2 separate regions of the Homo sapiens genome follow, and region 1 is linked to region 2. Evidence: fine-mapped expression QTL. A gene starts in region 2. The other region holds a variant in brackets. All regions are shown on one strand. Distances are between the middles of the regions. Region 1 overlaps PPFIA2 (PPFI scaffold protein A2). Region 2 holds the start of PPFIA2 (PPFI scaffold protein A2).

What was found. PIP is the estimated chance that this variant, and not a neighbour inherited with it, causes the effect.
Region 1: its variant is the best candidate, but not a certain one, in a credible set for the expression of PPFIA2 in lung (TOPMed, PIP 0.64).

What each region holds. Positions count from the first base shown.
Region 1 is chr12:81,731,360-81,736,751 of GRCh38, forward strand. The region is part of intron 3 of PPFIA2 (PPFI scaffold protein A2); the gene reads right to left. Among named protein-coding and RNA genes, the nearest start is that of PPFIA2, 25 kb to the right of the region's middle. The variant T/A (reference allele first, on the strand shown) is at 3,180.
Region 2 is chr12:81,756,277-81,761,668 of GRCh38, forward strand. It overlaps PPFIA2 (PPFI scaffold protein A2), which reads right to left and starts at 3,074. Exons shown (of 33, transcript NM_003625.5): 1 at 3,004-3,074; 2 at 2,124-2,231. RefSeq lists an enhancer at 1,934-2,872.

The DNA of each region.
Region 1 (5,392 bases), 25 kb before region 2:
CACTTTTTTTGTAATTTCTCTTGGCTATGAATGTGGGTCTCATTTACTTTTCAAAAATAAAGATTTGAGACACAGGGAGGTTCAGTGGGTTAAGGTAACTTGAAACCCAAACTTCAAACATTGCGAGCAAATGCATTTTCTGTCTCAAGTTTCACAAAAGAGCCTTACTGTGCTTATATCTCACCATAAAAATCTAAACATTTGCTTTTAAAGACACTTCAGTTAATTAAAAATATATAAGGTTGAAATAGTATTAAAAGTGATATATCATTATATGAGTATATCAATTTAGAGTGCTGGTTAATGTGAGGGTTCAGAAAACAGACAACCTTGGGTAGAATTGGAACTCTGCCATATACTATCTTTGCAAACTAGAGAAGGTGAGTTAATCCCTCTATGTCAGTTTCCTTATCTGTAAAAGGGGAATAATAATAGTACCTCTAGTCATAGAATGGTGGTTCAGATTAAGTTTGTTATATATGTAAAGTCCTTAAAACTATGCCTGGAGTTCAGCAAGCTCTTAAACATGAGCTATCAATTCTGGTTCTGATTCTAGTCACTAAAGAGTCAGCAGTGCAGGGGTGGGTGGGGAGTTCTAAATAATTGTATTAAAGAAAGCATGATGAAAAGATGAAAGTTAATTCTTCAAGCCTATGTCACAGGATGATATGAGAAACACATGTGAATATAACATGGACTGTGACAATATATAAAGTAATTAGAAAATATCATATGTGTAAGGGCTCAGAAAATGTATCACCACTCAAATATCTTTCTTAAAATGCTTACTTAGAAATACATTCCTTCAGGCAAAGTGATGAAATCAAATGTAAAATATAAAAATGGACAAATGGTGACTACAAGAATGATAGAATCATTCAAATTGAACATATTAATAGCATTTAAATAATTGCTAATAGCTTAATTTCAAATCTGAATGCAACTTTAGACTGGATTTTGCAGTAAAAATACCGCATAAAAGTTTTTAATAATAAATAACACTTTATGTTAATACAAATTGGAAAGTCCAGTGTGGGGAAAAGAGCAAGGACAGAGAAGTATTCAATTCTTCCTCTTTATATGTTGGACCAGAAGATGGAATGATTACTTTCCTGATTATACCAAATAAAGAAATATGGATGATGTTTTTTTTTAAAAAAAAAAAAAAAACACTCACACACACAACAGGTTCCACTAGTTTAGTTACAAACAATGTGTATTTCTTACATATACTGCAGAAGAGAAAAGGCAACAAAACCCATTTCAACAGCCAAAGCAAAAAAGCAAAATAATATCAAGGAAGGAAAAAGAGGAAATAAAAAATTAATGACATAGATAATTGCTCATGATATGTTAAGTGAAAATGCAGTGTATAAAATTACATATAGTATGCTTCTAATTTTGAGAATAGCATCTTTCTCTTAGTGTAAAAGATGATAAAGACCATCGACCTAAATTGAACTTTAAGTAATTATAGATGCAGAAACTTGAATATTTTCTACAAAGCACACAAAAAAAGCAGTACAAGGAAACAACTTCCAAGAACAGACCCAAAATTAAACACAGTCAATATGTAATTCAAAGTAGAAAATCACCAAAATAGGTATTATAAACTGTGTTGAAAATTAACTTAGAGCAGACCAGTAAAAAGCAAACAACTTTCTTAGTTACGTCTGGCCTTGTATTTTTGATAAATTTATTACTGAAATATTTTATAAATTAATACAACAATCTTTTATTGTCTCTATATAGTAGAAATATATATATTATGGTTAAGTTTATGATGGTAAAGTACATAAAATTCCAGTTTTAAAGTGTGAGACATAGTTCTTAAGAATATCTCTCTTTTTAGGTTTTAGGTTAAATAACTTCTCCAGAAATATAAAGCAACTAGTACGCATCAAGTGTTTAATCCTTGTTCTTGACTTTCTTTGACTCTAAAATCTTAAATGCTTTAAGGAAGATTGCGTTTTAAAAGTACAATGGATGTAAATTTTCAGTTATGCAGTATGAATAAGTTCAAGAGATCTGCTGTACACCATTGAGCCTATAGTTAATACTGTATTGTGCACTTAAAATTTTGTTAAGAGGGTAGATCTCATGTTAAGTGTTCTTACCACAATAAAAAATAATAAAATAAAATGAGGGAATCTTAAATTTAAATCTTGTCTCTGACACTTACCAGTAATGTGAGAATAGGAAACATACTTTTCTGAGATTTTATCTATATATAAAATGGAATTAAAGAGATTGCTTTTACAACTCTTATGAAGATAAAACAAAATATTTAAAGAGGCAATGAATATATTGATCAACAGATGCTTCTTCCTATTCTACTACACTGAGTTCTTTGCTCTTATTCATTTTCTGTCATACTTCTATCATTGTCATATTTCTATCACATAGAAGTGTAAATATTGGTTTAATCATCAGTCACCTCAAATAAGCTAAGCATTCCTGAAAGGGAGAAGCATTTTTCATCATCTTTTTTTGTTTCTATAAGCCATCAGGATAAGCAACATTTTATCCTGTAACCTACATGTTACATTGCCACCAGGATAACCTACATGTCTATCTTTTGTATTCTCATAAACTAGATAACGTGCCTGCTACACACATATTTTATTTAAAACTTCTGATTTGAGGGCTGTGTCTTCTGAAAATGTGTAAGACCAATGAGCACAGGAATGCAGAAGATAATCAGCACCTGTCCCAGATAATCATGGTCTCATATTACCACTGTTTCCTATTTCAGGGTGCATATTGTGCCCAAATCTGAGAATGCTGTGGTGAAAGTGATAGGTGCTGTGGAGCTCACAGTTGGAGTTTGTCTCTAACCCCAGGTGAACCTCTTCAAACACCTAACAATTGTTGAGTCTAAATAAAGGCTCACACAGCACTGTGTTTGTAGTTTGGGAAGATATGCACATATAAGGAAAAAATCTCTTTGCTCTGAGAGATTACATTGCATTTGCAGAAAAAAAATGCATACAATCACACTAAGCAAGCCATCATTAATAACCAGTTTAGACTTGTATTTTAAGTTATGTGACAGAATAGAAGAATACAAAGGGGGAGAGAGGCAGATTAGAGGTCAGGCTTGAAGACATAATAAGAAGCTTAATCATTTATTTTCCAGATTAGCATTTTACAAATGTAATTCTATGAATTACCTAAGG[T/A]GATTGTTAAAAGTATAAAATCAAAATTTCCAGAGAAGATGTCATTGTCAACAAGCACTTTGAGCAATTCTCCTTTTCAGTCAAGCTTGTGAAAACTTCTCTAGGTGATTGGGAGCCATGGAAAGTTATTTTTTAACATCTTAATTGAAAAATAATTTACATATCACAAAATTCCTTTGTGTTTAGTGTAGAATGCTATGATTTTAATAAATGTATAGAGGTGTGTAATCATCACAACAATCCACTTTTAAGTCTCCCAAAAAGATCCCTACCCATTTGCTGTCACTTCCTATGCCCACCTCCAGCCGTAGGCAAACTTTAATCTCCTTTCCATCTTATAGCTCTGACTTTTCTGGGTATTTCATGAATAAGGAATCATGTAATATGTAATCTTTTATGATGGGCTTCCTTCATTTAGCATGATGATTTTTAAAGTTTCATTCTTGTTGTAGTGCTGATAGTTTGTTACTTATTGCTGAATAGCATTTCATTGCATGAATACACAATATTTTCTTTACCACCTGAGGGATATTTGTTATTATGAATAATGCTGCTATGAACATTTGTGAACAGGATATACATGAAAATATGTTTTCATTTCCCTTGGTTAGATTTCTAGGAGTAAATTTTTTTAATTAAATAAACTACTAGATTATTTTTATGGTAGTTGTACCATATTACATGCCAATTAGCAATGTATGAAAGTTCTTAATTCACCACAATGTCTCTAATTCTGGGTATTATCTTTTGATTATAAAAATTCTAGATGGTGTGAAATGTGGTTTTAATTTGAAATTCCTAATGACTACAGAGATTGAGCATATCTTCATCTGCTTATTGACATCTATTTACCATCACTGATGAAATGTCTATGCAAATTGTTTACCCATTTTTTAATTGGGTTTTCCTCTTCTTATTGACTTGTGAGAGTTCTTTATAAATTCAGAATATATGTCCTTTAACAGAGATATGTTTTGAAAGCATTTTCTCCTAGTTATCTTAGTATTTTTCATTTTCTTACTATTTTGAAGTATAAGTTTTTTTTATTTTGATGAAGTTCTATTTATAATTTTTTTTGTGGATTGTACTTTTAGTGCCATGTTTAAGAAATATTTGCCTAATCCAAGGTTTCAACAATGTTTTCCTATTATTTTCTTCTGCAGAGTGTATCGTTTTGCTCTTACATATTGGTCTATGGGCCACTTTGAGTCAATTTTTGTGTATGATGTTTGGTAAGGTTCTAAATTAGTCTTTGTGCATTTGAATAGCCAATCATCCTAGCCTAATTTGTTGAAAAGACTATCTTCTCCACATTGAATTGGTATAATTGTTGAAAATCAATTGACCATAAATCTACGGGGTTATTCTTGTACTCTCTATCATTATACTTGCTCTATATGTCTATCCTTAAACTAACCTGTTTACTGTCCTTTTAGAGTAAGTTTTGAAATCAGTAAATGTTAAATTCTCCAATTTTGTTAATGTTTTTCAAGATTGTTTTAATTATCCTTGGTCCTTTGTCTTTCTATATAAATATTAAAATCACCTCATCCCTTCCTGTATAAAAGGCTGCTGACATTTTAATAGAACTGTGTTGAATTTATAGACAAATTTGGGCATATATGACATCTTAATAATATTGAATATTTTAAAACATGAATGTCTCTACATTTGTTTAGATATTTTTACATTTCTCTTAAAGTCTTCACTATACAAGCCTTGCATGTATTTTGTTTAATTTACTCTTAAGTATTTCATTATTTTAGATGCTATTATAGATGGAGTTGTTTTAACTTCATTTTTGATCATTCTTCGATACTGTACCAAAGTACAATTTATTTATGTATGTTTATCTTTTATCCTGTGACCTTGCTGAATTGGTTTATTCATTCTGTTGGGTTTATTTGTGGACATAGACGCATTTTAATAAAGGCAGTAACACAGTCAGATTTTAATAAAGGCAGTAGCACAGTCAGATTTGTATTTTAAACAGATAACTCTGCAGCTGTGAAGGGGATGCATTTGAAGGAGGAAACGCCGGAGGAAGTAAGAGTTTTTCAACACCGTTGGGACAATTACTGACATCTAGAATACTCAAAGGAATATATAACAAGACTAGGAGTACACCAGAAAAAAAATTGAAAATGGTAACTGCTTATTTTGTCATAGAAATGGACATGTTTATTTTAAGAAAATCATTTTAAGCTATCTTT
Region 2 (5,392 bases):
TTTTAAATTACGTCCTTCTTGAATGAAAGTTATTAATCCCTTTCCACCCTGAATCACTCAGAACAACTTTAAATTCCAAGGCAAAGCATAACAGCAGTGAATACCCCAATATAATTTTCACCTGAAAATAATATCCTAACAATCCCTCATTGTTACCATGGGATATAAACATTCACAAACTTTAGGGTCTTAAATCAACATTAAAGGTAGTCTTCGATTTAGTCAAAAGATGCTATGATGAAAAGTGGCTTAGGGACTTAGAAAGTCTATTAAATCTACACTCAAAAGAACTTGATTTGATTCCACTCCTAAGGCAGGTGAACCAGGACAAGTTACTTTACATGTTAAAACTTTAGTTCTCTCTTTCATGAAAGAGGGCCAATAATCTATGCTTAGAGGAAAAAAAAGAAAATATATAATAGGTTACCTGACTGAGAACACACAGCAAAACATATAAAGGGCAATTACAAATGTAAGTATTAATTTCTATTATAAAGTGATCAACATTAATCTTTGTAGAAACAATATTTTACCTTTACGACTCATTCTGCTGCTGTAAAGGTTTAATTCTAGTAGATACTTTTGAACTCTTCAAATCCAATTTATAAAAATCAAATTATGCAAAATTTACTTAGGAAATAAGATGAATATATGCTGCTTATACCTTGCAGTCAACCCAAATGAGTAAATCCAAAGTCTTCTTATCAAAATTAGAAAAAAATAGTCTACAAAAAAATAAGGCCACTTTCATGAACTAGCTTAGTTTCTTTCATTAGAATTCAGATTCTAACATAAATTACAAAATATTTGATTAATCCTTAAAATGCAGTATAACATTTCTTAAATGCACATTTTGCACATTTTAAGTATTAAAAGCAATTAAAGATATATATTCAATATAAGAGTTAAACACCCTTTTAAAAAATGGATGACATCTGAAGCAGCTTGCACAGTCCGGAAGGCTATGGTCATTCAATGTCTAGTGCGTTTCACCCAGATACATCACTTTTAACTTTTATAATCAGTATCAATACTAAAAACTGCATTCATCACATAATTTCTGAAAAGCCAGAAAGGGCATTTTAACAATTTGCCTTGATATTTGCTTTTTCATCATTCCCCCCTCAAAGTCAATTTGATATATAAATTATGTTATCTTCATCTAGATATTGATGCTTTCCTCATTAAATTACTGAAGGTTTTGAAACCTAGTCAGAGACATTGTTAATTTTGTTGAGAAAGAAAAAAAGTAATAATAAATCTGATTGGCTTAATTATCCCAGTGCTTAAATTTAGCCGGAAGAATTTTATATCAGGAAAATAACTCCTTTATTCTTAGCACATAGCCTTGACTGTCTTTTAAATTTCTCAGATTTCAAAATAAAAGTTTGAATGCCCACTGGAGTCCTCACTCAAGGGCTTTCAAGATCCAATGTGTTCCTTAACAATATATGCCATCCAAGCAGTACCTCTTCAGATATGAGAGTGCTACAAAAAGCTTTTTTTCTTTTTTCTGTCAACAAATGACTTTATTTAATCATATCACTAGGAATTCGGCCCTACTAGAGGTAAGAATGTAATTATTATCCATAGTGAGTTTCTTCTGAAAACATTTAGTCTTAAGAACCATCCCAGCTCCACCTCAGTTAACCTACAAGGAGTAATTCAGTGAGAGAAATCCTAGCCATTGTCTGATTACATTACATGAATATTCTCCCTCCTATTTAACTCTTTGAAAGCCTCTGTCCTCGGGAAATATGATTATCACCTTTAATGGACACATTTTACACTTTCTTTACCCTAGTGCATTTACGGACAGCCAGAGCCAGCTCAACCCACACTACTGGACAGTTATCTCTCAGCCACACCCCCCACCACCTTGAAGAAGTTGACTTCATCATTTCCACACTAAAATTGTTCATCCTGCCCAACAGGACACAGCCAAGTAGGCAGGAGGTAGAGAGATAGGAGATGGAGAGGATGAGGTGAAAGCAAAAGGCACCTAACGGTAATCAACAAGGAGGAATTTGCATCTCATCTTCCCTGGGGGCGGGGTGGGGCCGGGGAGGTGGTCAAAAAATACAGCGAAAGGAGACAGTAAAACTCAAAGACAGCTTCTGTACCTAATGTCTGTGATTTCGGGTCCTTGCTTCTTCAATTGATCAATGACAACCGCAGTCTCCGGCTTGAGGAGAAGGGAGGCTCACACCCAGCACTCCTGGACCATTTCCCTAGCAACGGGAGGAGAAAGGCAGCTCAGACACACGCGTGCCCCGGCGCCCTCCCGGAACGTGCCCCGGCCCGGTGGCGTGGCAGGAGCTCGGCATCTTCCCGTGGCTCCGTCAGCAGCCAAAAGGAGAAGCGTCCATCGGAAAAATGGCATATTACAAATTTTGCTTTGGGAAGCAAAGCTCGGTTCAGACCATTGTCAAAGGAGGAGAGGGGGAGGCGGCTCTTAAAGCAGCCGCGGCCCCTTTGCCAGAACAGCCGCAGCTCCCCGCGTGCAGCTGGAGCCCCGGGGCGGAGACCGGAGACCGGGGACTGGGTTTGACTTTCAGAAACTTAACCACGCGGCGCCGCTCCCCCTCCGCGCCCGGGCCACCCGGGGTGTGTGGGGCGTCCCTCCAAAAGAAAGCTTGGAGAAAAGGCGTGAGAAGTATCTGGGAGAGAAGTTCTCCACCCAGTCTCCCCTCCTGGAGCCCCTCTGGAGTTTAAGGCTAACCCTGGGAGTTAGAAACCTAAAGGAAAACGAGTCCCTAGGGATGCAAAAAGCAGGACAGGTCTCCTCCTGGCCCCCAGCCTGTTTCCGCGCGCTCCCGTGTCTCGTTTCACTTAAAGGAGGCGCTTTTTCTCTGGAAAGGCAAACATCACCCCACGCCGTCCCCCGGCCCCCCTTCCCTCCCCCCCGCCGCCCCCCCGCCGCCACAGCACACACACCCATTTTTCTCCTCCCGGCCTTTCTGCAAGCCTCTTTGCTTGCTTCAATTGGCCGGAAGAACCAACCTGCTGGCAGCCGGTGAGGACGCTACAGCATCTTCTCTCCTCACTTGCCTCGTGCGGTGGCTGCTACTCCTCCTCCTCCGTCTCCTCCCCTCCTCCTCCTTGGCAGCCACCACCTCCTCTTCCTCTGGAACAAGGGCTTCCCCTGGAAGCTGCTGCAGTGGTTTCCACCGGCCCTTAAATAAATTCTGAAGTAATCACGTCTTTGCTCTCCTCCTCACGCACACGCGCCCGCGGATACACTCGTCTCCCCCAGAGCCGCTCCCGGGCTGCCGAGGCTCGCTCTGCTCCCAGTGCCCCCTGCGAAGGCGAGGGCCAGGGATGGGCAAAGTGGGAAGGGGGCACACGCTTCCCCGCCTGGGCTTCTTTCACACAATGGGCTCTACAGCCTTCGCTTGTGTCAGCCTGCGCTGGTGGGGATGGGAACGGACTTGGGCACCTTTTGGCTCCCCGGTCTTCTGTGCTTGTCATTTCTTTAAGCAGCTTTCTTCCCACTGGGCCAGGGCATGGTAGTCATGGTTGTAGGGACCTGAGCCAATCTAGGGTGTGGCGGCATCTGTCATTTCTCATTACCTCTTCAGTTCTTCTTCATTCATATTGTTTTGGTAATGGGAATTGTATGTTAAGTATTCCCTGCCCGAGTAAATTTTAGCTTTGAGCAGAGTCTGGTCTCTCCATCGCGCTCCAGTCCCCCTTATATCTCCACCTCCCTTTACCTACCCTCTTTTCTTTCCGTTGCTGCTGTCCATTCATACAGACTGAGGAAGCAGGAGACAAAATCAGTACCTACTCTGAGCAGAAAGGGAACGTTTCTGTGAGGGAGAGTCACGAATCCTGCTGGGTTTGGTGAAAATGAAGAGGACATGCATGAAGGAATTGGAGGATTAAACACTGAATATATTTTGGGGGTTACTGAAAATATTCTGAGTGTGCTACACGAAAGCCAAAAGACGTGTTTTACTTTTGTGTAACGCCAAGAGTCCAAAGTTAACAAAGAACTAGTATGTAAATAACTGTTCACTTAAAATTAACTACAATATCCAAGAAACAATCTTTGTTTCTGAGGGAAGTATTTAATTCAGTTAGCGACTTTACAATGGAAAGTGGGGTAAAGCTCATGTATTTACCCAACTTCTATTCTAGACTGTTATTTAAATTTTACAACACAACACAATCCTATAAGAAGTATAAAAATAATACGAAAATTCATTAGATGTCAACTGGAGCACTATTTCTCAGACATAATGTGCATACAGATCATCCATGGATCTTGTTAAGTTGTAGATACTGATTCACCAGGAATGGGGTGAAACCTGAAATTCTACCCTTCTAATGACTCCCAGATGGTACTACACTTGAGGAGGAAGGGTCTAGACCACCCAATCGACCCACAATTTGATGTGGCTTAAATACCCCTAACTACAGGAAACTCTTCACCTCACAGGATAGCCTAGTCTATTTTCAGACAAACTTCATATTGTAATAGCTTCAACATACTAATCATATATCAGTACTCATAACTTTCACTCTCTAGAATTCTACACAAAACATAAAAATTCCTTATACATGAGAGATATTCTTATTTTTACATATAGCTATTATGTCTATTTTTACAAGAATTCCTTCCTTATTAAACCTTGGTTTGAATTTCCTTGGCAATCAACGTTTGTTAATTACTGGCTCAGATGTTCCTACTGTTTCCAAGAAGAGTTTTGATTTCCTTGAGTCCCATTCGTATGTCAAATACAAGTTTTAATTGTAAGTATAATCCCCACATACAGTTGACACAGCATAGTTAAAGGCTAACCCATGGTAGGTATCGCAGAAAGAAAAACTTTGATAATGGGAGGCAGAAAAAAATATCACGAGTTAAAGGATATTTTGTTAAGAAGATACAGTCTTCATAGTAAATTTCAGCTGAAAAACTTGACATTATCACTGCTAACTTCACTGCAAAGAGTGTAAATAATATATTAAAACTGAGAAAGACTGTTTAAAGTAGCAATTTTGCATGAGGCATTAGGTGAGCCGATTCACATGAGAAGAGTTACCACCTGCACCAGTTTCTCTAGTTTAGGCCCTTAAATTTAGCATACAAGAGACACTCCAGAAGGGCTTGTTACAACACAGATTGCTGGGCCCTATCCTTCGAGTTTCTGATTCATTACATCTGATTCATTACGTGCCTATTAAGTTCCCAGGTGGTACTAATATTGCTAGGTCAGGGATCCCACTCTGAGAAACACTGTGTAGATACATCTGGAGAAATTTGGGAACAAAAGAAGCACAGAGCAAAAAAAAAAAAAAAAAAAAAGAACAGGGAAATATTTTTTATTCAAAGAAAAAACATCCCCCATACTAATATAAATCTGACTCTACTGTTTTTGATGCC